Linked DNA regions of Homo sapiens. The protein of the gene in region 1 binds, or shares a complex with, the protein of each later gene. Each region holds a gene or a part of one and is shown in the gene's direction. Other genes may lie near its edges. The genes, in order: TMEM237, CEP290, AHI1 and TMEM67.

What was found.
Region 2: TMEM237 (region 1) and CEP290 share a complex: the UniProt entries of both Homo sapiens proteins name them as parts of the tectonic-like complex.
Region 3: TMEM237 (region 1) and AHI1 share a complex: the UniProt entries of both Homo sapiens proteins name them as parts of the tectonic-like complex.
Region 4: TMEM237 (region 1) and TMEM67 share a complex: the UniProt entries of both Homo sapiens proteins name them as parts of the tectonic-like complex.

Annotation. Positions count from the first base shown.
Region 1 is NC_000002.12:201,640,488-201,647,578, reverse strand, and holds the start of TMEM237 (transmembrane protein 237), read left to right. Parts: upstream 1-4,075; 5' UTR 4,076-4,178; coding exon 4,179-4,220; intron 4,221-4,908; exon of another isoform or gene 4,909-4,952; coding exon of another isoform or gene 4,953-4,970; intron 4,971-6,654; coding exon 6,655-6,686; intron 6,687-7,091. Other genes in the region: MPP4 (MAGUK p55 subfamily member 4), read left to right, coding at 2,175-2,369. UniProt on the Homo sapiens protein: Component of the transition zone in primary cilia. Required for ciliogenesis.
Region 2 is NC_000012.12:88,139,089-88,146,784, reverse strand, and holds the start of CEP290 (centrosomal protein of 290 kDa), read left to right. Parts: upstream 1-4,696; 5' UTR 4,697-4,885; intron 4,886-4,910; exon of another isoform or gene 4,911-5,052; intron 5,053-5,450; 5' UTR 5,451-5,477; coding exon 5,478-5,579; intron 5,580-5,751; coding exon 5,752-5,829; intron 5,830-7,220; coding exon 7,221-7,290; intron 7,291-7,593; coding exon 7,594-7,640; intron 7,641-7,696. UniProt on the Homo sapiens protein: Involved in early and late steps in cilia formation. Its association with CCP110 is required for inhibition of primary cilia formation by CCP110.
Region 3 is NC_000006.12:135,459,721-135,466,744, reverse strand, and holds part of AHI1 (jouberin), read left to right. Parts: intron 1-371; coding exon 372-931; intron 932-3,438; coding exon 3,439-3,620; intron 3,621-7,024. UniProt on the Homo sapiens protein: Involved in vesicle trafficking and required for ciliogenesis, formation of primary non-motile cilium, and recruitment of RAB8A to the basal body of primary cilium.
Region 4 is NC_000008.11:93,750,203-93,757,898, forward strand, and holds the start of TMEM67 (meckelin isoform 1 precursor), read left to right. Parts: upstream 1-4,691; 5' UTR 4,692-4,712; coding exon 4,713-4,935; intron 4,936-5,575; coding exon 5,576-5,664; intron 5,665-7,696. UniProt on the Homo sapiens protein: Required for ciliary structure and function. Part of the tectonic-like complex which is required for tissue-specific ciliogenesis and may regulate ciliary membrane composition.

The DNA of each region.
Region 1 (7,091 bases):
ACCCCCTCTCCAAAAGGCCCTCAATAAAATGGTTTACTATGGTTTTATTTAAAAAAAAAATTAAAACTGTATTGTTTCTACAGGATCTGTGTTAGAGAATGTAATTTTTGTTTCTAATGGATAATGCCCTTACGATTTATCCTTTTGGATGGACATCACTTACAGATATAAAGTTTAATAAATGTTATGATGCTACCCTTATTTTTTACTTTCTTATTTTTTTGGGTCTAGCTTAAAAAAAAATCCTTGAGCCGTAGTTTGCAAAGCCAAACAGAAATTGGGCATGTATGAGCCTGGTGTTTGTATTTTAAACAGAATATCTTTTACTTAAAAGCTTACTTTAAAAATGCTCAGTGAGTATATCTCATCTGTAAAATGATGATGGTAATAATAGAGGGGGCAAGCCAAGTGAAATTAATCAGTGATCTCATCCTAGAACAGGTGATTTTTTTTCCGGTTGCGTACATATATTTTACATTAAATATGCTTTAAATATTGTGTCATAACATACATTCAGTAAGGTGTACAGAGTGTACAGTTTAATGAATTTTTATGTGTGTATGCACCCAGATAACCATCACCCACATCAAGATATTACAGCCACTTGTGTGTGTGTGTATATGTGTGGTAAAAATACATAAAACTCACCATATTAACCGTTTTAAGTGTACAGTTCAGTGTTAGTATTTAGTGTTAAGTATATTCACATTGTGTGAAACAGAGCTCTAGAATTTATTTACCTGGCAAAATTGAAACTAAAAATATGAATGATTCACTAAATATTTGTATGTCATGCTTGTACAAGGGCCATGCTAATCTCTGCATTGTTTCAGTTTTAGTCTGTGTGCTACCAAAGCAAGCACAGGTATCTTTAAATTATCCTTTCTCTTATTATTTTTATTTTCATATTTTTTGCAATGACTATGGAGGTCTGATTTTCCAGTTTGCCTTGTGAACAGTGGAGTCCATGAATGTATTTGCTGAGTCTTATGGGCATTTAAAATTGTTCTCATTTTTATGGCAGTCTAAACAAATTAACAAAATTGTTTCTGGATCATATGTATGGTCACTTTGTAAAGCCACAAGATTTTGGTGCCTGCATTTGTGTTTCAGATTGTATTGGTGACAAGTTGTACTATTTTCATGAACTAATAAGAAAATAACAGCAATGAATTTAATGCATTAGTGCCAAGTGAATGCCAAATTACCTTCATTAAATGAACATTTCACAATAGTAGAAACATAATATAACTGGCTTATACCATCCTCATGTTGAAAGTGGCCATTTTGTATCTTTAATGTTATCCCTATCAGATTAATGTTCACTTGAAATTTATGTTTAAATTTTATTTAAACTGGTACATTTTCTTTGGTTTTATGTTGTATATGGTTAAAAAGTTTCAAGTGTTTAGGTAAGAGTAAGATAAGTTCACACGGGAAGTTGAGGGGAGTAATCTGTCTGCAAACTATGACTAAATTTTGCAAAACATGACGAGACATTAAGACTAAAGATTAAAACATAAGTTTTGTAGTTTAGAAGACATTTATTGGACCTCATTTTTTAAAATAAAAACTTCAGTCTTTTATTATTTAAAAAAACTTCCAAATTAAAATTTCTTTATCTCAGTAATACATTTCTAAGAAATAAAGGATGACATACTGTGGATAGTGATATACTTTTCCCAGCTTTGCTTATGCTTCACATTAATTTAGAAGGATATGTTTATACCTGTTATAATAATTATATTTTCTCTACAAAAATTAGCTGGGCATGATGGCATGTGCCTATAGTCCCAGCTACTTGGGAGGCCTAGGTGGGAGGATCACTTGAGCCTGGGAGGCAGAGGCTGCAGTGAGCTGAGATGATCCTACTGCATGCCAGCCTGGGACAGAGTGGGACCCTGTCTAAAAAAAAAAAAAATTATTTTATCTATACTTAGCCACATTATTTCAATAACAGAGGGCAAAAAAATTACTATTTTCTAGTTTGCTGGTTTTGTAGAATTTTGAAAAAATATTTTTGAAACTTTATTGAAAATCATCTGTGCAAAATTTTCGGACCTTACTGTTTTTATACATAGTTTCACAACTGAATGTGACAGCATAACAAACTGTATTTTTTCCATTTGTCCAATTAAGTCTGTACTATCCATATTTTTCTATTTCTCCTAAAGGATGAAGACCTACAAGAGATGGAAAATTTAGCCCAAAGAATGGAAACTCAGTTTGGCCAATTTTTTGATCATGTGATTGTGAATGACAGCTTGCACGATGCATGTGCCCAGTTGTTGTCTGCCATACAGAAGGCTCAGGAGGAGCCTCAGTGGGTACCAGCAACATGGATTTCCTCAGATACTGAGTCTCAATGAGACTTCTTGTTTAATGCTGGAGTTTTAACACTGTACCCTTGATACAGCGATCCATAGTTGCAATCTAAAACAACAGTATTTGACCCATTTTAATGTGTACAACTTTAAAAGTGCAGCAATTTATTAATTAATCTTATTTGAAAAAAATTTTTATTGTATGGTTATGTGGTTACCTATTTTAACTTAATTTTTTTTCCTTTACCTCATATGCAGCTGTGGTAGAAATATGAATAATGTTAAGTCACTGAGTATGAGAACCTTTCGCAGATTTCACATGATCTTTTTAAGATTTAAATAAAGAGCTTTCCTAAATAAAATAAGCAATAGTTAACTTTAGAAACTGTACTCTATGAAACGTGTTTTATGAAAACATCTTTTACAAAAAGTGCTTACTTGACTAACTCAGCAAGAAAGGTTTAATGTACACATTTCACATCTAAAATCAAAACCTACAAGAAACTGCACTGCCTTCACTATTTACAAATCGGCCTACAAGGAAAAAATTATTCTCATGAGAGGTGTGACAAACACTAATTTTCCTTAACAGCCAATATCTACATGCAGGCCTAAATTAGAAAAAGGCAATGGATTAATCCCAGAGACCTATATATAGAAAATCACAAGAGTGAAACCGTGTCTCAGAGTTAAAGAAACCAGGGACTAACAGAAATTCTTGAGCATGCAGGACGGCAGATAAAAAACAACTTGCTAAATAAAACGCCTAAACTTCTTCCATTGTGAGATTAAAAAACAAAACAAAACAAAACAAAGCAAACTGGCTGAAAGTGGTTAGTACTAACACGGATGGCTACCTGGAGTCTGTACAAAATGAGCTTGCTGGCGTCACAGCTTGAATCTTTCCCCATGTTTCACACTGACTCCCTCCAAAATTTGCACATGCGACCCATGAAGGGACATGAAGAGGTAACTGCGAACGCCAGAGGATTTTCCAGATGGCTTCTTTCCTTCCACCAATCACCTACTAATCCCAGAATCCACCCCCTAAACGTTTTCTAATAAAAATACTGTCTTAAAGCCAACACAGGGAGACAGATTAGAGCTATACTCCTGTCTCCTTGTTAGCTGACTCACAATGAAAACTTTTCTCAAAAAATCAGCGCCATAATATTGGCTTCTGTGCGTATAGGGCAACAAGCCCCGTTTGTTTGGTAACAAGATTAGGATGCCATTACAAAGTGCTGTTTCTCTTTCTTTCCCCAGATTTGAGATTTCCAGGCGCTTTCCCTGTCCCTGTATCTGTTCATCTTCTGCATCATTCTCTTCTCCATATCCACACCATTCTTCCATCTTTCCCATTTCTTTCTTAACTGTAAAACAGAATGCATGATTCAAAATATTTGTAGTTCTCTGTTACTTAAAGTGAAAGTTATCTTTAAAAAAAAACAAACCCAACCAAACCAAACGATGCAAATCAGGTAGTTTGTAGTGATATTTATGTGAGGTTGGATTTGATTTTAAGGTTGAGAAAAAGTTTTTCCAAATTTGATTTACACAGTTGTGGGATGAAGGGTAAGCAATCGGAGAAAATGTGAGAATTGCCTATATTAATACACATCCACACACCCAGGCCTGCACAGACTCGTTGGTCCTGGAGAGTAAACGCATTCCTCCCAAACCCAGCAGCGCCTGGCAGGACAGAGGCGGGCGGGGACCTGGCTCAGGGGGCGGCTGCCTCGCCAGGCGCCACGAAGCCCCGGCGTCCCACAGGTCCCGGAGGCCGCTGCGTCGCGGGGAGCTGGGCTCGGGCCGCCGGCGGTTGCGCCGGGGCAGCCCCGCGGGGAGAGCACCATGAGGACTGACTCGGGGGCTCGGCTGGAGGAGGGCCACCTGGTGAGCGGCGAGGGGCGCGTCGGCCTCGAGAGGTGGCGGGTAAACAGCTACACTTGGCAGTGGGGGTGGGTGTGTGTGGGGGGGCGCCAACGAGCTGGGAATCACTAAGGGAGGGCCTTGCTCGTGGGGTGCGCGCATCCGCCCCTCCAGTGTTCACAGGAATGGGACGGAGACGCAGGCGAGGCCGGGACCGAACTCCCGGAGTGGGAGAGAGAGGCCTGGCATGAAGTTTGCGGGGACCTGAGCCCGCGTTGCCACGACGACGCCTCACTCATCTGAGGCCCGGGGCCCGGCGGGTGCCGGGGCTTCCAGCCAGGCCTCTCCTAGACTCCTCCGAGGAGAGGTCTGTAGCTGCCCAGAAGAGATCTGTTCGCCTGCGGAGTCCTTTAATTAAGGTCTTCCGTCACGCCCCGCTTCCCGCAAACAAATCACCGCCACCACTTAGGAAACCACGGGAAAGCTGTGATTGCAGCGCCACGGTCGCCAGATTTCTGCTCCTGGGCACATTACCCCCAACTCCGAGGCCCCCTTTTTGGCAGGGCTAGTCTGGACTGGCCAATCCAGGTCCCTGCACGCCTCTCACCGCAACATCCCCGCAGGGCGCTGCGCGCGGGGTACTAGCCAGGCGGCGCGGCCCGATGACGCATTGCGCCTGCGCGCGCGACCGAGCCGGGAGGGGTGGGGCGCCAGGTGCTTGGGGGCCGGCGGCCGCCGAGGCCGGCTAAACGCAGAATGGGGAAGAATCCTGTGGTAAGCGAGCCTTAGCTACTTTTAATTGTTAGGATTTTTGTCTTCAGTTGAGCCGTCCTACTTTTGAGGATTAGAGGTTGGGTCTCTGGGTGGGTGGAACGTCATTTTTGCGGGACTTTTGAAATCAGTTACGTGAACAGAGCCCTGGGATCGATCGCGCGCGCTTCGTAGCATCTTTAGAACAATAGCGCGTTCCTGTGACTGTCATTCTTCTCCAATTGTAATTTTGACTACTGGATGGTATTACGGCAGCTTGCCTCGTCCTAATCTTGTAGTACTTGCATTAATCTACTGTTCGAACGAATGGATTGCTAAATGGGACAAACTACAAGAGTGTCTAAAATTTAACCCTTTTGAATAAATGTCTTATGCAAGCAGCATGAGATACTTGGAACATTAAATTGGCTTCTAGGCATTTCTGTTACTATATGATTCTAAAATACTTCTCAACTGTAATGCTGTCTGAACTACAAACACTTTTCTTATTCATGTAAATGAGGGTTTAGAAGGGTTCCCCCCACCTTTCTTTCTGCCCTAAAACGCATTCTTCCCAGTGTATGCAACTGGCCTTTTTAAAAATTGTGTTAGTATGTGGTTTAAAACCTCCATTTGTTTCCCATTGAATTAAAACAAAATCCAAACTTCCCTTGGTCTGCAAGGCCCTAACTAATCTGGCTCCTGCCTACCTCTCCTTGGTAATTGTGCGGCAGCCTTGCTGTCCTTTTACCTGAAACATTCCAAGCCCAATTTAACCTAAAAATATTTGCATTTGTTCCGGTTGCTGCTTTCTCATTCAGGTCTCAGCTCAAACTCAGAGAAACTTTCCCTAACAAAAGTAGCACTCAGTCTCCTTCATTCATTACGTTTTGTGTGTGTGTATCTTGTGTATATATATATATATGCACACACGATATGTATACAAGATATGTCTTAAATATAGCATATAAATATATTTTATCGTACATGCTGCATATAATATATAGTATATATTATCATATATATATTTTTAACATTGTTTCTAATACTCAACCACTAGAATGTAAGTTTCATAAGAGCAGAGTTCTCTCCATTGTGTTCATTAGTGTATTCCTAATGCTTAGAAAAGGGCCTGGCCTAGAGATGGAAAGGAATGTAGGAAGGAAGGAATTTTATATGAAATTTAGGATGGGAGAACAAATTTTAAATTGCCCATGTTTCTCATCAGTACCTCCCAGGTTTCACTGATGAACAAGATTATCAAGAGATTTGAAGATCCTAGTCTGATCCATTATATTTTTCTGTCATGTCTGAACAACAGACTTTTGAAAGAATTGCTTTGGCCGGGCGTAGTGGCTCACTCCTATAATCCCACCACTTTCAGAGGCCAAGGTGGGCGGATTTCCTGAGGTCAGGAGTTCAAGACCAGCCTGGCCAACATGGTGAAACCCCGTCTCTACTAAAAATACAAAAATTAGCCGGGCATGGTGGTGGGTGCCTGTAATCCCAGCTACTTGGGAGGCTGAGGCAGGGGAATTGCTTGAACCCAGGAGATGGAAGCTGCAGTGAGCCAAGATCGTGCCGTTGCACTCCAGCCTGGGCCACACAGCAATACACCATCTCAAAAAAAAAAAAATAGCGTGATGGTATTTGAAGTAAAGATGCTCTAGGCTTTTACTTACAAGCAAATTTATTTTTTCCGCCACAGCGTCCTCCACGAGCTCTTCCACCTGTGCCAAGGTAAAAATAATTTACAGTAATTTCATTATTGAGCTTTAAAAATGGAAAATGAAGACAGTGGAAAAATTGACTAGTATCATTGCAAAATTACAATGATTCAGGAAACTCTTCTGAAAAATTTAGGGATTTTCTGAAATTTTAAAGGTGAAAAATCCTTGAATTTTAAGAATAACAGTTATAATGGAATGTTATATTTAAAAGCCTGAATATCAACATGGTAGGATAATGGATCCATTCCCTTTCTAACTGTTTTGGTGTCTTTTTTTTTTTAAATCAGAATTCTGGTCTTTTGTGAGAATAGTTTCCTCAGAGTTTAAGCTGATTTTAATCAGTCACAAGTAAGAGTTCTTAATCTGCTTAATCCATTTTATTAATAGACAGTAGGGAATATGTATATGTAGGTTC
Region 2 (7,696 bases), on another chromosome or scaffold:
TATAGTTTCAAGTTTTATTTCCTAAATTTAATCAGTTATTTAAGTACTGAGAAAGTTTTCTTTGTTAAGTTAGGCATCTGAAGTACTTAAAAATGAATACATTCAAAATAATTCAATTCTTCAATATATCTTTATTTTACATATATATACATATATATGTATATATATATATACACACACACACACACACACAAATATATAGGTATGTATATGGTTCTTCTGTTAGTTGTGCCTGGGGTCACTCATGTGCTTATAGTTATCCAGTGGCTTGATTAGGGCTGGATGGCTTTTAAAGGGTAGATTTCTCAGCTTTGAAAACTAGTCTCTGCTACTTATTAACACATCCTCTAATAGGTTATCTTAGGCTTCTTAAATGATGATCTCAGGACAACAGGAGGGCAAGGTTCAATGCACAAGCTCTTTATAAGGCTCTATTTAGTGCGTATTTTAAAAATTATTATTCAAGCAAGGTACATCCTGAATCAATGGGGAAGAAGTTATAAAAGGGCCAAGATAACAGAATTTTTAAGATTCCCCAAGGGAGCATAGTATGAGAGAAAGGGAGAGAGAGCATGTTACGAGCTCAGTTGTGGAGTCATCTTAGGTTACTTCCAAGAGCCACCTGCAAAGTAGAGGTTGCAGGGAAGGGACAGATTTACACAAAGGCATAGGCAGACGGGGACCTGACTCACTGGGGGCCATTATTGCAAACATGTAACACACTATTCTTGTTAGTTGTGAGAACTTCTAATTTTTCCTAGGCACAGAAGCAGACTTACAGATGCAGTTTAAGTGGATGGGATGACTGATTTCTGTTTGCTTACAAAAATGGGGTGTTACTATATATGTGCACAAAATCCAAGTGCAATTGGAAATGTGAAAGGAAAATAAAACTTGGGATCTCAATTCATTATGTCTATAAGAAAAAATTAGGGTGAAAGCTGAGTCATGCAAGAAACTGCTCTCCTTTTGTTCTTAGCAGACAGCTACACATCAAATGTTAAATATCTCCACAGGTAGCTACTTTAGGACATTCATCTTATCTCACGTAAAGTGCTGATTTACCACCCCACGTGAATACATAATATCTATTTCCCTCTCTGCTCTTTTTCTCTTGCAACACATAGATTACCATATCTACCCTTTTTCTCTTCCAATGGATTTTTCCCCTTTAAATACTGAAGCCCTCAAAATCATCTTAGAGAAAGGAAGAGACTACAGACTGTTTCTGTGATTCAGTGTTTATTTCTTTTCGGCATGTCCCTAACCTTGGCAAAATAAACTTCTAAATTGATTGAGACCCGTCTTAGACACTTTTTGGTTCACAAAGACTTCTCATGAGCTACATTATAGATATACAAAACTAAATACAATCCCTTCAATAAAACTGTAAATTGTATTAAGGCAAATTGTTTTGCCTTAATTTCATGGACAAGAATGAGTGTGCAGCAAGCAGATACTTGTCTTCCTTCAACATGAGGAAACTGGAAAGATCAGTAGGGAGTCAGTGTGAATTAAGCCATTAACCATGGCTTAATTTGCCATGAAGATAAGGCAAAACAAAATGTTTAGGACACACAATGGATACAAAATGGCCATGCTTTGTTTTAGAGATCGGAGAAGTAAGCTACTATGACTTTTCTTGGTAAGTCAGCAAAAAGGAACTAGAAGTAACATCCAAGGAATATAAATTCATTGCTACAGAGAACAAAGGTAAGCAATAATAAAAGGTGAGGCCTTCTTGTGAAGTGATTTTGGTCAGATAAAACTGTTCACAAAAGCCTAGGGCAGAAAGAAGGCAGGTCCAGACAAGTGTTCTTATAACAAGGCCACTTACAACATTGTCACATAAGTCCCATTTCTTGATGAAAACTGACAGGTGCAGAAAATCTGACGAAAAATAATAGTTTTGCCAATTTTCCTCAAAAATATACAGTGAGTTATTGAACTAGAACCTGAGTTAAATTTCCTGACTCACACTTAGGTACAGACGACAATGCATAAAAACTTAGTTGACTTGTTCAAGCCAGAGCTGACTTGTTCACTGCTGTATCCCCAGTGCCTAGCACAGGAAACAGGATAAAAAATACTGTTAGAATGAGTTAAAGAATAAAATTTAGGTAAGATTTTGCTTTTAGTTACAATTGTCACTGAGATCTAGGTTACAATCTTAGCTTCATCAATTATTACTTAACTTCTATGAACTTGTTCTCACTTCTGAAAAATTAGAATAAAATTTACCATTAGAGACCAGGCACCTTGAGTTTATGAATGTGAGCAAGAGGGTGGTGGCAGAAGGGTAGAAAAGAGTAATACAGACAAACGAAACTTGTAAGTGAATACATAAAAATAAGTTATAACGAATGAAAAAAAAAACAGAAGAAAAGGTGTTAGAGAAAACAGACTTCTATTATGAAAACAAACACGCAGTAGTCAGCATAGTGTATGACATAACATGTGCTCAGTAACTATTAAATTTCATTCCTACCATTGTCAGAGGTATTTGAATCACAACAACTCCATCTTGAATAGGGGCTGGGTAAAATAAGGGTGAGACCTACTGGGCTGCATTCTCAGGATGTCTGTCAGTCATTCTAAGTCACAGGATGAGATAGGAGGTGGGCACAAGATACTGATCATAAAGACTTTGCTGATAAAACAGCATGCAGTAAAGAAGCCAGCCAAATCCCACCAAATCCAAGATGGCGAGAAAGGTGGGACGTCTGCTCGTTCTCACTGCTCATTATACACTAATTATAATGCATTAGCATCCTAAAAGACACTCCCACCAGTGCTATGACAGTTTACAGATGCCATGGCAATGTGAAGAAGTTACTCTATATAGTCTAAAAAGGGGAGGAACACTCAGATCTAGGAATGGCCTACCCTCTTCCCAGAAAACTCATGAATAACCCACCCCTTGTTTAGCATATAATCAAGAAATAACTATAACAATCCTTAGTCTACCACCTCCAATGGGGGTGTATGCACCTCCAATTCTTTCTTGGCGAGATCCAGGAGCCCTCTCCTGGGGTCCAGATCAGAACACCTTTCCAGAAACACCATCCCATGTTAAATTATGAATTAAGAACACTGAACATGAAGAATGTTTAATTCAAATTATTGAGTAAACACTTACAAAATTAAAATATAACATTTAATAAAAATAGCAAGATTGAGGAACAAGCACTTCACAAATATTGGTTTCCCAGAATGTCTGAGGAGGTGTATAGAAGTTAAGAATATGTCCTCCAGCCAGAGAGATCTGTGTTCAATCACACTATTTAAGTTACTTAGCTTCTCCAAGCCTCAGTTTCTTAACTCAGATGGAAAATGAGGACAATGTAAGCACCTATTTCACTGGATTGTAAGGAAGAATAAACAAGATAATGAATAGTATTTGGCATATAATCTTTCAGAAAAGTAGTAAAATTGTCATTCCTATAAATCTAACTAATGTCTTTAAAATTCATCTCACAAAATCAGTATCTTTTTATTTTGTACTGAGCTACTTATTTTACCCAAATTGGGGGTTTAAAAAGAAACTCATTACTTATTTTCGAAAGGAAAATTTACTGTCAAGTACAGTAATTTTTTTTTTAAAGCAGCGTTTAAAAAAAAAAAAAGACAAAGCACTGGTCCAGATAGTTGGAAATGTCATTTAGATTTAAGTCTACAGCTTCTTAGGAAAGTTAGGTAGAGATGTATCATACTCCAGCATGATTGTGAGCAGACGAGCAGGATGAGCAAAACTTGCACGAGTAAGAGTGGTAAACACCAGAGAAGGCGCTTTCATGGAAGGGCACCCTAGGTAACCAAGCAAGTGGCAACAATAGTACAGGTGAGTCCTTGGATCCCTTCTCTCTCCACCCCCGGCAGTGGTCCGGACAAGTACTAACCTCTCCTCTCTAGAGCCTTGACTTTATACTAGCTCCACAACCATCAAGCCCCACGATCCGCGAAAGGAATGGTGCTACAGGTAAGGCGGGCGGGGTCGGGATGCCGAGACCTCTTGTCAATTCTTCGCTCGCCCCCAAACGAGGATCACGGCTGCGCGGCTCTCACTCTAACTATCAAGACAGATTCTGATACTAAACAAGGCTAAAACTTTTTGTTTTTTCCTTCTTACAGAAGGCACTACCCTGGACGCCGCTTGCAAACGCCTGAAGAGAAGGCAGGGTGTTCCCACTTTTTCAGAATGGGACCAGGCCCTACGGCCCCAATAGCAGAAGCTTCTCTAACCCAGGACTGCTCCCCTCAATTCCTCCCAATATGCTGACCGACAGCTCGACCTCACCTGGGGGCGGTTCCGCCAGGGGATGGCTTAGGAAAACCTCAGGAAGAGCAGCCCAGCGAGTGACGCCACTGAAACCACAGTCATGGTCTACCTCGTTCAGGCCACCAGTTTGCAGGCGCCTGAGCCGCTGCTCCTCCCGCCTCTCGGTCCTTCCCCGCCGCCCCGGTACCGTCGCAGTCTTACGCGTTGCATGCCGGGAGCGCCTTACCTCCTCTTCTCAGGGACTTCAGTTCCCAGCATGCAGAAGCCTCAGGCAGAACTGCACTCTGGGATTTGAAGTCCTCGTTCCACGCCTTCTCATCATCCTGAACACCGAGCTCTGGGACTCCGGCGGAGAATCTAAACGTAAAGCATCACCCACGGTCGTGAACTGTAGGCTCTCCTGGCATCCGGGATCTTATTCTGGCCTTGGCGGAGTTGGGGATGGTGTCGCCTAGCAGCCGCTGCCGCTTTGGCTTGCTCGGGACCATTTGGCTGGACCCAGAGTCCGCGTGGAACCGCGATAGGGATCTGTCAGGGCCCGCGGCCGGGTCCAGCTTGGTGGTTGCGGTAGTGAGAGGCCTCCGCTGGTTGCCAGGCTTGGTCTAGGTGGGTGGATCCTTGTAAGCAGGATTAGCGAGTCACTCCACGCTCAGGTTCTTTAGCCTGAGGGCCCGTGTGCCACAGCATAGCTACCCCGCCCTTCCAGCCTCGGGTCCCTAATACTGCCTTGCTTCGGTTCCAGTTTCCGCCGCACAACTTCACTCATTCCAAATGTTAATTTCTGCGTTTTTTTTCAGCCCCAATTCTGTTTCTCCAAATCAGGGATGATTGTCGGCCTTCCACAGACCCTCGCGCTTGCCAGGATTAGGGTGTTCGCGCGCATTGTGGGTAGGGGTGTGGAGGAAGGGATCCAGAAATCTTAAGTATTAACTTAGATTAGTGTTAGCAAGGAAGCCGTCACATTTTATTTAGCCGGGACACTCTGACAGTTTGTGCCGACTGCTATTTTTGATCAAGGCTATTTTGCCCACTTGTCTATTTTGTGGCCCAATTGTCTGTTTTGCTAACATCAGAAAGTTATAATGAAATAATCTGCAAAAAATGTAAGGTGCTAGAAAACCAATAATACTGTGTACCTTGAAAATGCTAATATACACCTGTTTTGTTACAGAGGTGGAGCACAGTGAAAGAATTCAAGATGCCACCTAATATAAACTGGAAAGAAATAATGAAAGTTGACCCAGATGACCTGCCCCGTCAAGAAGAACTGGCAGATAATTTATTGATTTCCTTATCCAAGGTGCTTAATTGGTCAATAATAATAGATATATACATTAACTTATGATTAATTTATTAATAAAATATGAATTTATTTTTTTCAGGGACAACTATAATTGTCACAATCTGGAAGTGTTCTTATATTTTGCTTGAAGGTTATAAAATATAAAACAGTTGCTTTTCTGTTTACTTAGGTGGAAGTAAATGAGCTAAAAAGTGAAAAGCAAGAAAATGTGATACACCTTTTCAGAATTACTCAGTCACTAATGAAGGTTTGTATGTAGTAGGTTTTAACTATAGGTTTGGCTATTAGTGGAACTATAAAAATCTGTTCTTATATAAGGTAATCTTTGTGAAAATACCTGGTAATATCTACATCACCACTAAAAAATGCAATATATTTAAATGTGAATTAAGTATTTTAGTGTATAAAACATTGCTAGTTTCTACTTAAAGTTTCTAAAAGGGTGTGTAGGGGAAATAGAATGAGTATGTTGAAAAGTAACATAAGGAAATATATCTTGAGGTCCAAATGACAAATGCAGACAATGACTGCTATAGGGATTTGTTAAGAGGGGAAATGATTTAAGAGATGTCAGAAGACTTCACAAAGGATCAATACTGAGGAGTAGTGTTAGATAAGTGGAAGGCAATGCAGTGGTAAGATAGTAAGGGAATTCTAGAGCTGTTGGTTACCATAAATAAATACTGAGAACAGGAAATATGTTTATTCTTTATATTTGAGGAAACAAGGTGCAGCAAGTTTGTAGCAGACTGTAGAGAAAACAAATCTTGGGTAAGTACTTTGAGATAGGTTGTTGAGGGCCTTAAAGGTGTATTTTATGCTATCAGCAATTGAGAAGGCAGTAAAGGTTTTCGAAACACAATTGATAGGTACAAAAATACACCTTAAGAAGGCAAAACTGAGTATATTATGTAGGACAAACTGAAGGAAATTGGAGCTTTGTAGACATCACATTATAGCGGAGTTTAAACCTGAAATTATGGATTAGAATAATAGCAATTGGAACAGAAAAAAAGTAGTGGAAAGACATTACAAAGGGAGATGTTGCATTACTGGATATAAGACTTGAGGACTTGAGGTAAAAAGGAGAATCAAAAATGTTTCATGCTATTAAAAATCTAGAAATTGTAGTCTTAAGTAAGAAAATTGCCTGGCATGGTGGCTCACGTCTGTAATCCCAGCACTTTGGGAGGCCAAGGCAGGAGGATTGCTTGAGCCTGGGAGTTCAAGACTAGCCTGGATAATATAGTGAGTCCTTGCCTGTACGAAAAAATTTGCCGAGCATGATGGCACACCAAGCATGATGGCACGCCAAGCATGATGGCATGCACCTGTAGTCCCAGCTACTCAGGAGACTGAGATGGGAAGATTGCTTGAGCCCAGGAGGCAGGAGGTTGCAGTGAGCTGAGATTGTGCCACTGCACTCCAGCCTGGGTGACAAAGTGAGGCCCTATCTCAAAAGCAAAAAAAACAAAAACAAAAACCAAAAACTATTTATTCAGCAAATATTTACTGAACGTCTCCATGTGCCAGCCATTGCTGGCACTAAGGATCATAACAAATAAAACAGAATTTTTATTTTCAGTGCTTACATTCCAGTATAAAGGCATATTGAAATAACCTTTTTTTAATGTTTAGATGAAAGCTCAAGAAGTGGAGCTGGCTTTGGAAGAAGTAGAAAAAGCTGGAGAAGAACAAGCAAAATTTGGTAAGCACCTTGGAAAAAGTTTATTATGGTATTAAATAATGAATTCCATTTGTTCATTAAACTGTAGAAAATTAAATTATATTCTATAAAATATATATATTCAGTTTATTTTTAATATATAACATTTAATAATAAATATTTCTAGACTCCTATTTTATGGATCTGCCATATAATACTTTTTGTTACCTTATAATCATGATGGACTCTTTTAAAAGAATTAATTTTGTTATTGAAATTTATTTAAAAGTTTGTTTTGTGGTAACTAATCAATTAAAACGTTTTTCTTTTTTTTTAAAAAAATAGAAAATCAATTAAAAACTAAAGTAATGAAACTGGAAAATGAACTGGAGGTATGTCTTTTTGTATTCCCTAGGATGTAATTGTCATTAATTTTATTTTGAATTGT
Region 3 (7,024 bases), on another chromosome or scaffold:
TCACATTCAATGGCTCTTTTAGCAATTTCTCGAATATCTATTAGAGTGTAGATCATGAGGAAAATATGTATGAGGAAAATAGCATTTGAGATTTGAGCAATTAATTCACTTCTTATAGGTCCTTAAGTACTTTTTTCCCATGTCAATTAACTCATTTAATCTGAAGTTACATTCAGAGATTACTAATCAAATTCTGGAAGCATAAATTATGAGAGTACTCATATGCTCTAAAATAGTGTCACTATGTCCAGATGAAAAACTAAATAATCCTCCCAATAATTCCACATTGTCAAATATTAATTATTAGGTTTTTCTTTATATAACTAATCTATGTGTAACTGAAACTTTGTTATCATGTCTTCTTTTCCTAGCCCGACACTATTAGAAGCAATCTTCCCCATATTAAAGAAACTACAAGTGATGATGTAAGTGCTGCTAACACTAACAACCTGAAGAAGAGCACGAGAGTCACTAAAAACAAATTGAGGAACACACAGTTAGCAACTGAAAATCCTAATGGTGATGCTAGTGTAGAGGAAGACAAACAAGGAAAGCCAAATAAAAAGGTGATAAAGACGGTGCCCCAGTTGACTACACAAGACCTGAAACCGGAAACTCCTGAGAATAAGGTTGATTCTACACACCAGAAAACACATACAAAGCCACAGCCAGGCGTTGATCATCAGAAAAGTGAGAAGGCAAATGAGGGAAGAGAAGAGACTGATTTAGAAGAGGATGAAGAATTGATGCAAGCATATCAGTGCCATGTAACTGAAGAAATGGCAAAGGAGATTAAGAGGAAAATAAGAAAGAAACTGAAAGAACAGTTGACTTACTTTCCCTCAGATACTTTATTCCATGATGACAAACTAAGCAGTGAAAAAAGGAAAAAGAAAAAGGAAGTTCCAGTCTTCTCTAAAGCTGAAACAAGGTATTTTTGCATTGATAAATGTAAAATATCCTCTTAGAAAAACACTGTTATTTTCAGGTTTTGAATATTATCTGTGGTTTAACAAAGAAAATTCTTACGCTTTTATTTGGAGACATTGTCACTAAGATAAGAACAGCTAACTTTTACATAACACCTTACTATGTACTAGGTGCTTTACGAGAATTAACTCATTTATTTCTTATGACAATCTTATAAGGAAAAGTAATATTCTTCCTATCTTGCTGATGAGGAAATGGAAGTACAGAACTAGTAAGAGGCTGAGCCAGATCCTTGTCCCTACCCTGAACTACTCACTTACATCTGCTTTCAAAGTAATAGAAACCTAATTACTTCCCCTTTTTTGAGTTACAAATACCTGTTTGGATATATAAATATAACTTTTTTTCTTATACAGATAACATTAGCTCATTGTAGAAAAACTATTCAAAGATAATCACTATTGGCAATTTGGTATTCTAATCTTTTTCTCTATATGATGCTTATATATGTATGTACTTCTATATAGAGTGTGAGGTTAAGTGAACATACACATATTTATATGTTTTCTATTTGGAGAAAACAATAAGGTAAAAATGCTTTTTAACTGCTATAATTAACTTTGTTCCCCCCTGCAGTTCTCCTCTAGAGAAACAACTTGAGGTGGGAACATTTTATATGTGACTATTCTTTGGCATTCAGCATCAATTTCCCCTAAAGCCCTCAGCCAAAAATAATTCCCCTCTTTTCAAAAGCTAGGTGACCGGTGGTAATAAAGATACGGCAAACCAAGTTGCTGCAGGGACATGATAGTATATATTAGTTATCTGTTGCTCCATTAAAAAGATGATCCCAGAATTTAGCAGCTTAAGACAACAAGCATTTACTGTCTCAGAGTTTCTGTGGGCCAGCAATCTGAGAGTGACTTCACTGGGTGTCTCTGTCAATCACAGGTTGCAATCAGGATGTTAGCTGGGACTGAAGTCACCTCAAGCCTTGACTGGGGGAGGATCTGTCAAGTGACATAGCTGTTAGAAGGCCTTAGAAGATCCAGTTCTAAGCTCATTCATGTGGTTGTTGGTAGGCCTCAGGTCCTGACTGGCTTTGGGCCCGGTATACCAGTTCCTTGCCACATGGACTGTCTCCATATGGTCTACACACAACATGGCCACTTGCTTCCCCAGACCAAGGGCTCTGAGAGAGTGAGAGCAAGACAGAAGTCACAGTCTTTTTGGAACCTAATCTTATAAGTGGCATTCATTACTTTTATCATATTCTGTCTGTCAGAAGTAAGTCACTAGTCCAGCCCACACACAAAAGAAAGGGGATTACACAAAGACATGAATATGAAGAGGTGGGGATCAGTAAGGTCCATCTTAGAGGCTTCCTACCATAGTATACTATAAATCTTCCTTCTCATAGCTACCACCTCTGTGGTAGACTGGTAAGCCATAGTCAATATGAAATAGGGTTAGCTCATGAATTTTTAATAACACGTGACAGTGGCACGCAAAGGGTAGCTGTTCTCCTTAAAGAACAGGGTTTGGTGATGTGATCAAATAGAATGGCTTTCTGGAATGACTAATTTGAAATATTTCTCTAGTCTTACTTTCCTCAACCCATTTTTTTTTTGAAATATGACTAAAAATATTGGAAATTAATTTTTTATTATTTACATGCAGATTTTTTACTAGATACATTAAAATGTTAGTAGGCTGGTTTTTCTTTAAACTCAGTATGCTTCTGGGTTGCTACTTCTTACCATTTACTAGTTCATGTGATATAGATTTTAATTTTAGTAATAGCCTTCTGAAAATGTAGTGACTCACCAAGGAATTAATTTTTACCTAGAAATCCATGCCTGAGCAACATAGTGAAAGTCCATCTCTACAAAAATTACAAAAATTAGCCAGGTATGGTGCCTGTAGTCTCAGCTATTTGGGAGGCAGAAGTGGGAGGATTGCTGGAGCCTGGGAGGTTGAGGCAGCAGTGAGCTATGATTGTACCACTGCACTCCAACTTGGGCGACAGCGCGAAACCCAGTCTTAAAAAAAAAAGAAAAGAAAAAAGAGAAATCAAAAGTTGTGCATGTGAAGCCTCTTGAAGACGGAACAAACCTAGAATACTTTTTATACCTTTAAATAAGGTAATTTAAAAATTGGTTGATAAATCATTTACTTGGCAGCAGGGTGGGCATGCTTTGATAAGTCCTATGTAAAGAGAGATCAATTGCTCATAAAATATTAATACAATTTCCCTTTCCCCTGGGGTTTAGAGCTCAGTTTTAGTTGAATCGTGTAACTCCTCACGAAGTATAAAATACCACCTATGATACCTATTTGACACTTAACCATTTTAGTGTATAAGAAAATACATGCATCTCTCAAGAGACAATAATAGTGATTTTAGGATTATCTTTGCTCCTATTTACTGTTCACTCTGTTGCATCATGAATAATAATTATAATGATAATATATCTGTAATGGCTGATACTTGGATTATATTTGTAGTACATTGACCATCTCTGGTGACACAGTTGAAGGTGAACAAAAGAAAGAATCTTCAGTTAGATCAGTTTCTTCAGATTCTCATCAAGATGATGAAATAAGCTCAATGGAACAAAGCACAGAAGACAGCATGCAAGATGATACAAAACCTAAACCAAAAAAAACAAAAAAGAAGACTAAAGCAGGTTTGCTATACAAATTAAATGAAAAATTGTGTATGTTGGTAGAAATAACTTGATTCTAGGAATTTTAGCCCTTTAAAACTGATGGGTATACTTGAAAATAATTCAATATAGGATATTTGGTACTTGTTCTTGAATTCATCTAGATTAAAGCACACATGTATTTGTAGCTGTAGGTCTCTGATGAGTTTGTATCACTTGAGTCTTCTCTGATTTTTTTTATTTTTGAGATGGTGTCTTACTCTGTCTCCCAGGCTGGAATGCAGTGGCACGATCTCGGCTCATTGCAACCTCCACCTCCCGGGTTAAAGCGATTCTCCTGCCTCGGCCTCCTGAGTAGCTGGGATTGCAGATGCATGCCACCATACCCGGCTAATTTTTGTATTGTTAGTAGAGACGGGGTTTCACCATGTTGGCCAAGCTGGTCTCGAACTCATGACCTCAAGTGATCCACCTGCCTCAGCCTCCCAAAATGCTGGGGTTACAGGCATGAGCCACCATGCCTGACCTTCTCTGATTCTTGTCATACTTTAAATTCAACTCTAAAATGATACTGACTTTGTAGTTGCTATTGGGTCATAGAGGATTTCTTCTTTAAACCATTGAGTTTACATCCTCTAAATGGTTAGGACTCAGTTGTTGAAAGCTATAAATGGTCAGCAGCCAATAAACATTTCTGATGTTAAGGCTGCATCCTGTCCAACATGGTATCCTCCCAATTCGTCAGCCTAATACCACTTCTTTCCTTTCTCAACTTTTCTCTTTGCCTTGTTGATTTCTGTCTTCTTCTTTTCTTGTTTGTTTTCTCTTATTTTTCTTTACATGTTCTTTTCTACTCATACATCCTTTTTTAGTCTTTCAGTTTCCATTTGATTGGCCAAAAATTGGGATTAAAATGGGCAATTTTAGATTTTATAGTACTTATTCATTAGAAGATGTAAGTGATGATGTTTTGTGGTTTCTATAATTAAAATTTTAAAATCTTTTGTTGAAGCATAATGTGTATATAGATATATATAGAAAAGCACTAAGCAGTATACTTGTTTTATGTGTTTCTATATATATAAAGCACTAAGCAGTATACTCATATACATATTTTTAAAGTTTTTTTCACAAACTGAACATACCTATAAAATCATTACCTAAATTTGGAAACAGAACATCATTAGCACCCAGAAAAATCACCTTCCCGTTAGTTGCCCTGTGGGAGTAACCACTACCTGGACATCTAACAGAGTTTATTTTTGCTTATTTTTATACTTTAATATGAATAGAATGATAAATACTGTGCTCCTTGTGCCTGACTTTTTTTACTCAATGTTAATTTTGTAAGATTTATACTACTGTTGCTTGCATACAGTTGAGCTTATTCATTCTTAATTCTGTTTTTGTATTATTTAGATATCCATTGTGTGAATATACCACAGTTAATTTGCCTATTTTATTGATGGTCATTTGAGTTGTTTCTAGTTTTAGGCAATTATAAGTAAAGCGGTAATTCACATTGCAGTCACGTATTTGGTAAGCACATGCATACCTTTATCTTGGGCATATTGTTAGGAGTAGAATTGCTGTCATAGATTATGTATATTTTTTGCTTTAATAATTACTTCCAGTTTTCCAAAGTTGGTTTACCAGTTGACACTAGCAGTGTTTGAGAGTTCCAGTCACTCCACATCTTTACCAACATGTAATACTGTTTTTTAACGTTTTAGTCATTCTTAGGAGTGACTAAATTTTCCTCATTCTTCAGGAATGTATAGTGATATTCATTTTGGTTTTAATTTTATTTCCATGGTAACTATTGAAGTTGAGTGTTTTCATGTTTATTAACTACTTAGATTTTGACATTTGTAAATATATTCAAGTTGTCTGCATTTTTTAAAACACAGAATTGTCTTTTTCTAATTGATTTGTAGTGATAGGTTTATATACCTCAATATGAGATTATTCTCAGATATAAATACCTACCCACATTTATATCGCAAATGTCGTCCTACTCTGGTTTGATTATTTCTCTCTCATTGGTGTCTTTTGAAAAACAGAAATTTTTGTATTGTCCAGTTTATCCATTTTTTTCCTTTGATGGTAAGTGCTGTGATTTAAGAAATCTTTCCTAAGTTCTGAAGATATTTTTCTAAAAGTTTTATTCTAAAAGTTTTACTGTTTCTGTTTTACTTTCACATTTAGATATGCAGTTCATCAGGAATTGGTTTATGTTTATGATAGGAAGCAGTGATCAAGATATCCATGTGAATATATATTATGATTGACCCAGTACCATTTACTGAAGAGAGTGTCTTTTTCCCTCTGTGTTGCAGTGTCACTTTTCCCATAAATAACATGACTGTGTTACATGTGGATCAGTTTTTGTAGTCTCTATTCTTTTAAATTAGACAGTTTGTACCAACACTACCATGTCTAAATACTGTAGCTTTTTAATAGGTCTTGCTATTTAGTATTATACTCTAGGTTTTTCCTTCTTCATCTGCATTGTCTAGGCTATTCTTTACTTTGCATTTCTGTATGGATTTTAGAAGAGCTTCTCCATTCTCCCTCTTCCTTTTTACCCTCATTCTGTCTTGCAAGCTGTGATTTTGATCTAGACTGGGTGAATCTAAAGAGTCACAGCATAACAACTCTCTAAAGAGACTTGACATTTTTACACAGTATTGATTCTCAGGCTATGAATTTGGTATGCACTTCCATTTATTTGCATCTTATTTAATATATCCCAGCAATATACATTTCAGCAGAATCTCTCCTTAGATTTATTCCTGGGATTTGATGTTTCTTAATGATATTATAAATGGCATTTAAAAAATTTTTGTTTTGTATTTGTTGCTGGTACATATATGTAGAAATGTATTTAAAATTTTTTAACATTGTGTCCATTGATTTGCTAAATTCACTTATTGCAAGAGTTTATTTATTTATTTATTTTTGAGACAGGGTCTTGCCCTGTCACTCAGGCTGGAGTGCAGTGGCGTGATCTCAGCTCACTGCAACTTATACTTCCCAGGTTCAAGCGATCTTCCCACCTCAGTCTTCCAAGTAGCTGGGACTACAGGCATGCACCACCATTCTTGGCTAATTTTTGTAGAGACAAGGTCTCACTACATTTTCCAGGCTAGTCTCAAACTCCTGGGCTCAAGCAGTTCTCCCACCTCAGTCTCCCAGAGTGCTGGGATTACAGATGTGAGCTATCGCGGCCCACAGAGTTTATTCTTACATTGTTTGGATTTTTCTACATATGCAATCATGTAATACGTTAATAACGATAGTTTTATCGCTTCTTTTTCAGTCCTTATGCCTTATCATTTTGCTTGCCTTGATACAAATCAAGATTTAATCTCTTTATTATCAATCTTTTTTTTTTTTTTTTTTACTTCTGTCAGCTATTTGAT
Region 4 (7,696 bases), on another chromosome or scaffold:
GGAAATAAGATATTGCAGCATGGAAGAATTCAAGAATGCCATAATTAAGCTATAGCCAGAAAACAAAAGAGAGCTCTTAGAAATTAAATTTATAATAGAAGAAATGAAAAGTTCAATTCAATGTTTGACAGATACGCGCAGGAAAATCTTCCAGAAAGTAGAACCAAACAAAACAAAATGAAAAATGAAGCCTGGGCGCGGTGGCTCACGCTTGTAATCCTTGCACTTTGGTAGGCCGAGATGGGTGGATCACCAGAGGTCGGGAGTTTGAGACCAGCCTGACCAACATGGAGAAACTCCGACTCCACTAAAAATAACAAAATTAGCCCTGCGTGGTGGCACATGCCTGTAATCCCAGCTACTCGGGAGGCTGAGGCAGGAGAATCACTTGAACCCAGGAGGTGGAGGTTGCAGTGAGCAGAGATCGTGCCATTGCACTCCAGCCTGGGCAACAAGAGCAAAAAAACTCCGACACACACACACACACACACACACACACACACACGCCGGGCGCGGTGGCTCACGCCTGTAATCCTAGCACTTTGGGAGGCCGAGGCGGGCAGATCACGAAGTCAGAAGATTGACACCATCCTGGCTAATACGGTGAAACCCCGTCTCTACTAAAAACACAAAAAATTAGCCGGGCGAGGTGGCGGGCTCCTGTAGTCCCAGCTACTCCGGAGGCTGAAGCAGGATAATGGCGTGAACCCGGGAGGCGGAGCTTGCAGTGAGCGGAGATCCCGCCTCCCGCCACTGTACTCCAGCCTGGGCGACAGAGCGAGACTCCGTCTCAAAAAAAAAAAAAAAGAAAAAAGAAAAGAAAAATGAAAACATAATCTGAGAAAATTAGAGGAACAGTCCAGGAAGTCTAGTATCTGAAAAATAGGGTGTCCAGAAGAAAAAAAAAACGGAGAGAAAGTCTTCAAAGGAATAATTAGTAGAAGAGATCATTTCCCAGTGTTAAAGGACATGAGTTTCTTTGCTGAATTGCAAAGTTACAACAGGTGTTCCACACAAAAGATGACAATGAAACATGCCCAGACACATCACTGTAAAATTAAGAAAAATGAGAAGGTGGGGCACAGAGAGGAACATCCTGAAGACTTCAAGAAAGTAAAAAACAAGTTACACACAAAAGATTAACAAATCAAAAGGGCACTAAGTGTCTGGAGATTGGGAATGAACACAGGGTTCACCACACAAAGTGCCCCAGATGTAAGATCTGAACCTCACTAATTCCCCTTTCTCACCACAACCTCCACTTCTGTTTTTCACCTTCTTTGTAATATTTTAATTCATTAATCTCATCTTGAACTTACTTGCCTTTAGCTTTTCTTTATTCCTGCCCAGAAAAGCACATCCAGAGATTCAAAGGCAACAATAAAAAGCAGGGCTTAAGAGTGTGGGCTCTGCATTATCCAAAGCAAACTTGTCACAGAGAAAACCTCAAAATCAGGGTTCAGCCTGAGTGGCCATGTGGGTTCTCAGCTTCATGCAGGAAGGAATTCAAGAGCAATCTGACAGAATAAAGTGAAAGCAAGTTTGTTAAGAAAGTAAAGGAATAAAGAGTGGCTACTTCATAGGCAGAGCAATGGCAAGGACTGCTAGACTGAGTATATTTATGGTTATTCCTTGATCATATACTAAACAAGGGGTGGATTATTCATGAGTTTTCCAGGAAAAAGGTGGGGAATTCCTGGAACGGAGCGTCCTCCCTTGTTAGACCATGTAGGGTAACTTCTCTAAGTGGGCATGGCAAGGGGCAAACTGTCAAGGTGCTGGTGGGAGTGTCTTTTAGCATGTTAATCCATTGTAATTAGCATATAATGAGCAGTGAGGATGGCCAGAGGTCACTTTGGTCACCATCTTGGTTTTAGCAGGTTTCAGTCCTCTTCTTTACCTATCCTGTTTTATCAGCCAGGTCTTTATGATCTTATCCTGTGAAATCAGTCCTGCCAACCTCCTATCTCAAACTAACACAGGAAAGAAATAAAATACTGTGTGTTCTCACTTATTAGTTGGAGCTAACATTGTGTACAGGTGGACACAAAGAAGGGAACAATAGATACTGGGTACTACTTGAGGGTGGAGGGTGAAAGGAGAGTATGGATCAAAAAACTACCTATTGGGTTCTATGCTTATCACATGGGTAAGGAAATAATCTGATCCCCAAACCCCCGAGACACTCAATTTACCTATATAACAAACCTGCACATGTACCTCTGAACCTAAATTAAAGTTTAAAACAACAACAACAACAACAAAAACCCGAAGAAAAGTATGGGCTCTGGTGTCAAATTACCAGGGTTAGAACCATGAATTAAGTGTGACCTTAGAAAGTCACTTATACTTTCTAAGCCTTGGTTATTTCATCTGTAAATTAAAGGTGATGATAACAGTCCCAATTTAGGATCAAATGAGATATTGCAATGCCGGACACATTAAAAGTGTCTCCATGGGACTAGCCCAAACTGAGCCTACTCTGTTGATAACAAAATGTCGTGTTACCTTTTAGATGTAACAGAGCCAAAAACTGAAAGTCATGTAGCCCAGTCATGTGCAATAGAAAAAGCCTGGACCTCTAACAACACCCAAAACCAGTGAATCCTTTCCTTGGAACCAAGACCGGGACATGACTGGAACCTGAACTTGGAACTCTTTCAAAAGTGTTGGGTCCATTTGCCTGGAGGATCAGGCCTAAAATCGGCCTCTACGTACCTTTTTCTAAATGGTCAAATTTCAAGTCCTCCATTCTGCCTGCCAAGACACATTCCTAAATTCTTCCCTTGGCTTTCCAAGCCCATAAGTTTACCCCAGACTCTAAATCAGGGAAACAGATTTGAATGCACTCCTATCTCCTTGCTGACCAGTTGTGCAAATAAAGACTTTTTTTCCTCAAAAGCTTGTGCCACATAGTATTGGCTTCTGTGCATGCATTGGATAGAGAGCTCATTTGCTTGATAACAAAAACAAGCTATTAATACCTATTATTTCTATTATTATCCATACCTCTAGCTCCCACCATGTTAAATATTCCTATAACTTTCATTTCTACCTTAAAATTTTCTTTATCCAATAAGTTTTCGCTTAGAAGCTATCTACCACAGGTATCTTCCTTTAATATCACAACCGTCTACCCAGCCACCCAAATCAGAAACCTGGAAGTTATCCTTGATTCTGTTTGTTTACTTCCTATGTCCAAATAATAAAATTCTTATAATTCTTCTTCCTGAATAGCTCCTTTATTCATCCTCTTCTGCCTCTCCCTTCCTCCATGGCTCCAATTTAGACTCTAGATTTCTACCTTAGCCTCGCAAGTGGTCTCTAACTCTAAACGTTTCCATATTTTTGTCCAGGATTTTTTTTTTTTTTTATATAGGGTCTCTGACATCCAGGCTGGAGTGCAGTGGCACGATCATAGCTTATTGCAGCCTTTGGGCTCATTGACCTCCTGGGCTTAAGTGGTTCTCCCGCCTCAGCCTTCCAAGCAACCGGGACCATAGGCATGTGCCACCCACCCAGCTAATTAAAATAAATTTTATTTGTAGAGGTGGAGTCTCACTATGTTGCCCAGGCTGGTCTTGAATTCCTGGGCTCAGACAATCCTTCCACTGTGGCCTCCCAAAATGTTAGGATTAGAGGTGTGAGCCACAGCACCAGGCTTAGATTCCTTTATTCACAAAAGGTGTAAAGGTGATCTCATTTTATATACATGTCAACTAAAGAAAAAAATCAGGCTTTTAAAGACTCAAAGTTAGTTTTATTCGGAGTCTTACTGAGGAATGCAACCCTGGAGAGTCTTTCAAAGAGTTTATGTTATACTGGTCCAAAGCAGCTGTTCTGCCCCCAGTTTCTACATCAAGGGATGGAGTTCTGCATGTGCTCAAAAGTTACATTAAACGTGCTCAGAAGTTACGTTGGAGCAAAATCTCATCAAAGTTTTGTTTGGAGACTACATCTGGTTATAGATTACAGAGGCATAATCATTAATCCTGTCACACGTTATCTTACGTACAGGAAGAGGCAAGAGCTAGGATCGCTGACTGTATCTTTTTAAAAAATGAAGTGATTCAAGCAACAGATGTGAAAACTTGTGCTCTATCCTACTTATTGTCTTCAGGGCATTCTTCTGGAGGACTGCGTTCAGTCACTGAGTCAGGGGCTTTGTGAAATTTCGCTGGCAACAGAATGAGCAAACATGGTTTCTTCCGTTTCGTACTTTGTCTCGCATACATGATTTCCTATGCTCAAACCTGGCAGGAAAGTTTTTTTATTTTTTCAGTCTTTGAGCTATAGTAATCCTTCACTGGGTTTTAAGTCAGTGGGGTTTTTTGACATCAAATTGTTAAACTACAAGTCATGTTTCCTTTAACGTGAAAATTACCTAGTCTGAATAAATTCTGATGTAACTATAACTCGACAAATTATGATATTTTCAACTTACGATGGGTTTATTGCGGGGAGGGGGCAGCCCTATCGTAAGTAGAGGAACTCTATACACGTTTGAAAATATCGCTGGGCTCCAGGGTTAACCGGTCTCTAACCCATTCTTTACTGGACCTGCCAACTTCGCGCAGGGTTGGTAACCTAGCAACCAAGCAACACGAGCAGTGACTTCCGGTACCCGGACTTGGGTTGTCCAATCAGCTCAGCGAAGCCGCCGCAGAGGCTGATGGGGGGCTGGAGGCTGTGAGGCTTCCAGCGTCGGTACCATGGCGACGCGCGGTGGGGCTGGGGTGGCAATGGCGGTTTGGTCCCTCTTATCCGCCCGGGCCGTGACCGCGTTCCTTCTGTTGTTCCTCCCTCGCTTCTTACAGGCCCAGACCTTCTCTTTCCCTTTCCAGCAGCCGGAGAAGTGCGACAACAACCAGTACTTTGATATCTCCGCCCTCTCGTGTGTTCCTTGTGGAGCTAACCAGAGGCAAGATGCCCGAGGTAAGACGGTTTGCGGTGGGCCCTGGCAAAAGTAACACTCCCGCCTTGGTCGGCCCCTAGTCCCCGTAAATGGAGTTTCACCATGTTGATCAGGCTAGTCTCGAACTTCTGACCTCAGGTGATCCACCCGCCTCCGCCTCCCAAAGTGCTGGGATTACAGGCGTGAGCCACCGCGCCTGGCCCGAATACATGTATATTGTTTAGTGACGTAGAAATGTAAAATTTCCAGCAGCAGTTAAGTAGTTTAATAGTTTAGTTATACTTGCACTTAAAATGGTAGCAGCATAATACCAGCTGTGTGCCAGTGTAAGACCTCTACGTATAATAACTAATTTTGTACTCATACTAACCCTGTGAGGTAGGTACCAATTTTTTTTCTCCATTTTATTGTAGAGGAAGCCAAGGCAGAGAGTTTAGTAACTTGTTCAAGGTCATGCAACTGAGTAGGATTACTACGATTGGAACTCAAGAAGTGTATTTCTGGATTTGAACCCAGGCAGTACTGCCTCCAGAATCCTGCTGTTAATCACTATACTGCTTCTCAAGATCTTCAGACTTATTAAAAGTTTCACTATCTGGGAACTTTATTTTTATTTATCAAGGATAAAATTGGCTTTTTTTTTTTTTTTTTTTTTTTTAGGAACTTCATGTGTATGTCTACCAGGATTTCAGATGATCTCTAATAATGGAGGACCTGCTATTATTTGTAAAAAGTGCCCAGAAAACATGGTGCGCATAATTTATTTTAAAATAACTTACCTGTAAAAAGTAGTAAGTTAAATATCTTTATTTTTCAAAATATAATTTAATGTTTAATGTTTCCCCACAGACTTTAAAATTACTATGCTAATTTTATTTTTACTAGAGTAAGTTTTGGGAGATCAGCGAAATTTCATGCAAACTTGGAGAAAACAGAAATGTATTTCTTTTAAAATCTGAAATCCAAAAACCACAAAGCTGTAAAAATTTAAGTTTTTGTTTTTACTCGTAGAATAACTCGGTTATGAAGAAAATTAGATGAATAAGGCATATATAGAGCAGTCTGGGATGTGTGCAATTTGGGATGTGTATATTCTTTTGACTGATGCAAGTGGAGTTGTCTTAGACCTACCATGTCAACAGTTTATATGATTATTGATGTTCATAATGATATCTAAGGTGTAATTATTTCATGAAATACCAATTGCATTAATAGATTAAATAATGTCTGTTTCTGTTTTGTTAGTAATTTCATTGTATCGTAATTTAAAAAAAATTAGTAAATAGTTACTATATATAATTCTCAACATAAATATATTTTTCAATCATGTTGGATAATTAAAAGTCTGTGTAACAGTTGTGACATTTACAGTAATGTTTCTTCTCATTGTCATATAAAAAATATTAATTCTGGGAATTTAATGTGAAGTTATCAATTGTCCCAATTTATAGCTATCTGTATTACTTGTAAGTCTGATTACCACTTTTTATATTACCATTTATTTTATATCTTTATAATAGATTATAATAGATTACCATTTATTTTATATCTTTGCAAATATTGATCCTAGCTGAATTACCCATGATAAAAAGCTGCTAATAAAAAGTGGTCTCGCAGCAGATTTCTTTTTCAGTGACATTGTTTAAGTTATTGTAATTTTTAAATTGTCCTGTATAGGCCAGGCACAGTGGCTCATGCCTGTAATCCCAGCAGTTTGGGAGGCTGAGCCTGGTGGATCATGAGCTCAGGAGTTTGAGACCAGCCTGGCCAATATGGTGAAACCCCATCTCTACTAAAAATACAAAAATGAGCTGGCTGTGGTGGCGCGTGCCTGTAGTCCCAGCTGCTTGGGAGGCTGAGGCAAGAGAATCGCTTGAACTCAGGAGGCAGAGGTTGCAGTAAGCCAAGATTGCACCATTGCACTCCAGCCTGGGTGACAGAGCGAGACTCTGTCTCAAAAAAATAAATAAAATATAAATAAATAAATAAATAAATAAATAAATAAATAAATAAATTGTCCTGTATAAATGTATTGCCAAATATAGGAGTATTTCTTGATAAATTCAGTCTTTTCAACCAAAATTTAAAATAATTTGTGGCATTATTTTTGTTCTTTATAAACTTTGGTTACATCTGTGTTTGTAATTATTGTGTTTTTTGCCCCAGGCTTTTCCTAAACCATATGATATAATAAGCCCAATTTTGAATGCTGTCATACTTTATCAAAAACCTTTACTAGGCCGGGCGCGGTGGCTCACGCCTGTAATCCCAGCACTTTGGGAGGCTGAGGCAGGTGGATCACGAGGTCAAGAGATCAAGACCATCCTGGCAAATGTGGTGAAACCCCATCTCTACTAAAAATACAAAAATTAGCTGGACGTGGTGGCACGTGCCTGTAGTCCCAGCTACTCGGGAGGCTGAGGCAGGAGAATTGTTTGAACCTGGGAGGCAGAGCTTGCAGTGAGCCGAGATTGTGCCACTGCACTCCAGCCTGGCAACAGAGCAAAGACTCTGTCTCAAAAAAAAAAAAACCTTTACTAGTACAAGCCATAAATGGATAGAAGAAAATATTCTCATAAATCAATTTTAACAACTATGTGTATAATTTATATATTTCATAAAATTTACCCATTTTGAATCATAAATGAATTTTTTTTTTTTTTGAAAGAGAGTATTACTGTTGCTCAGGCTGGAGTGCAGTGGCACGATCTCAGCTCACTGCAACCTCCACCTTTCTGGTTCAAGCCATTCTGGTGCCTCAGCCTCCCAAGTAGGATTATA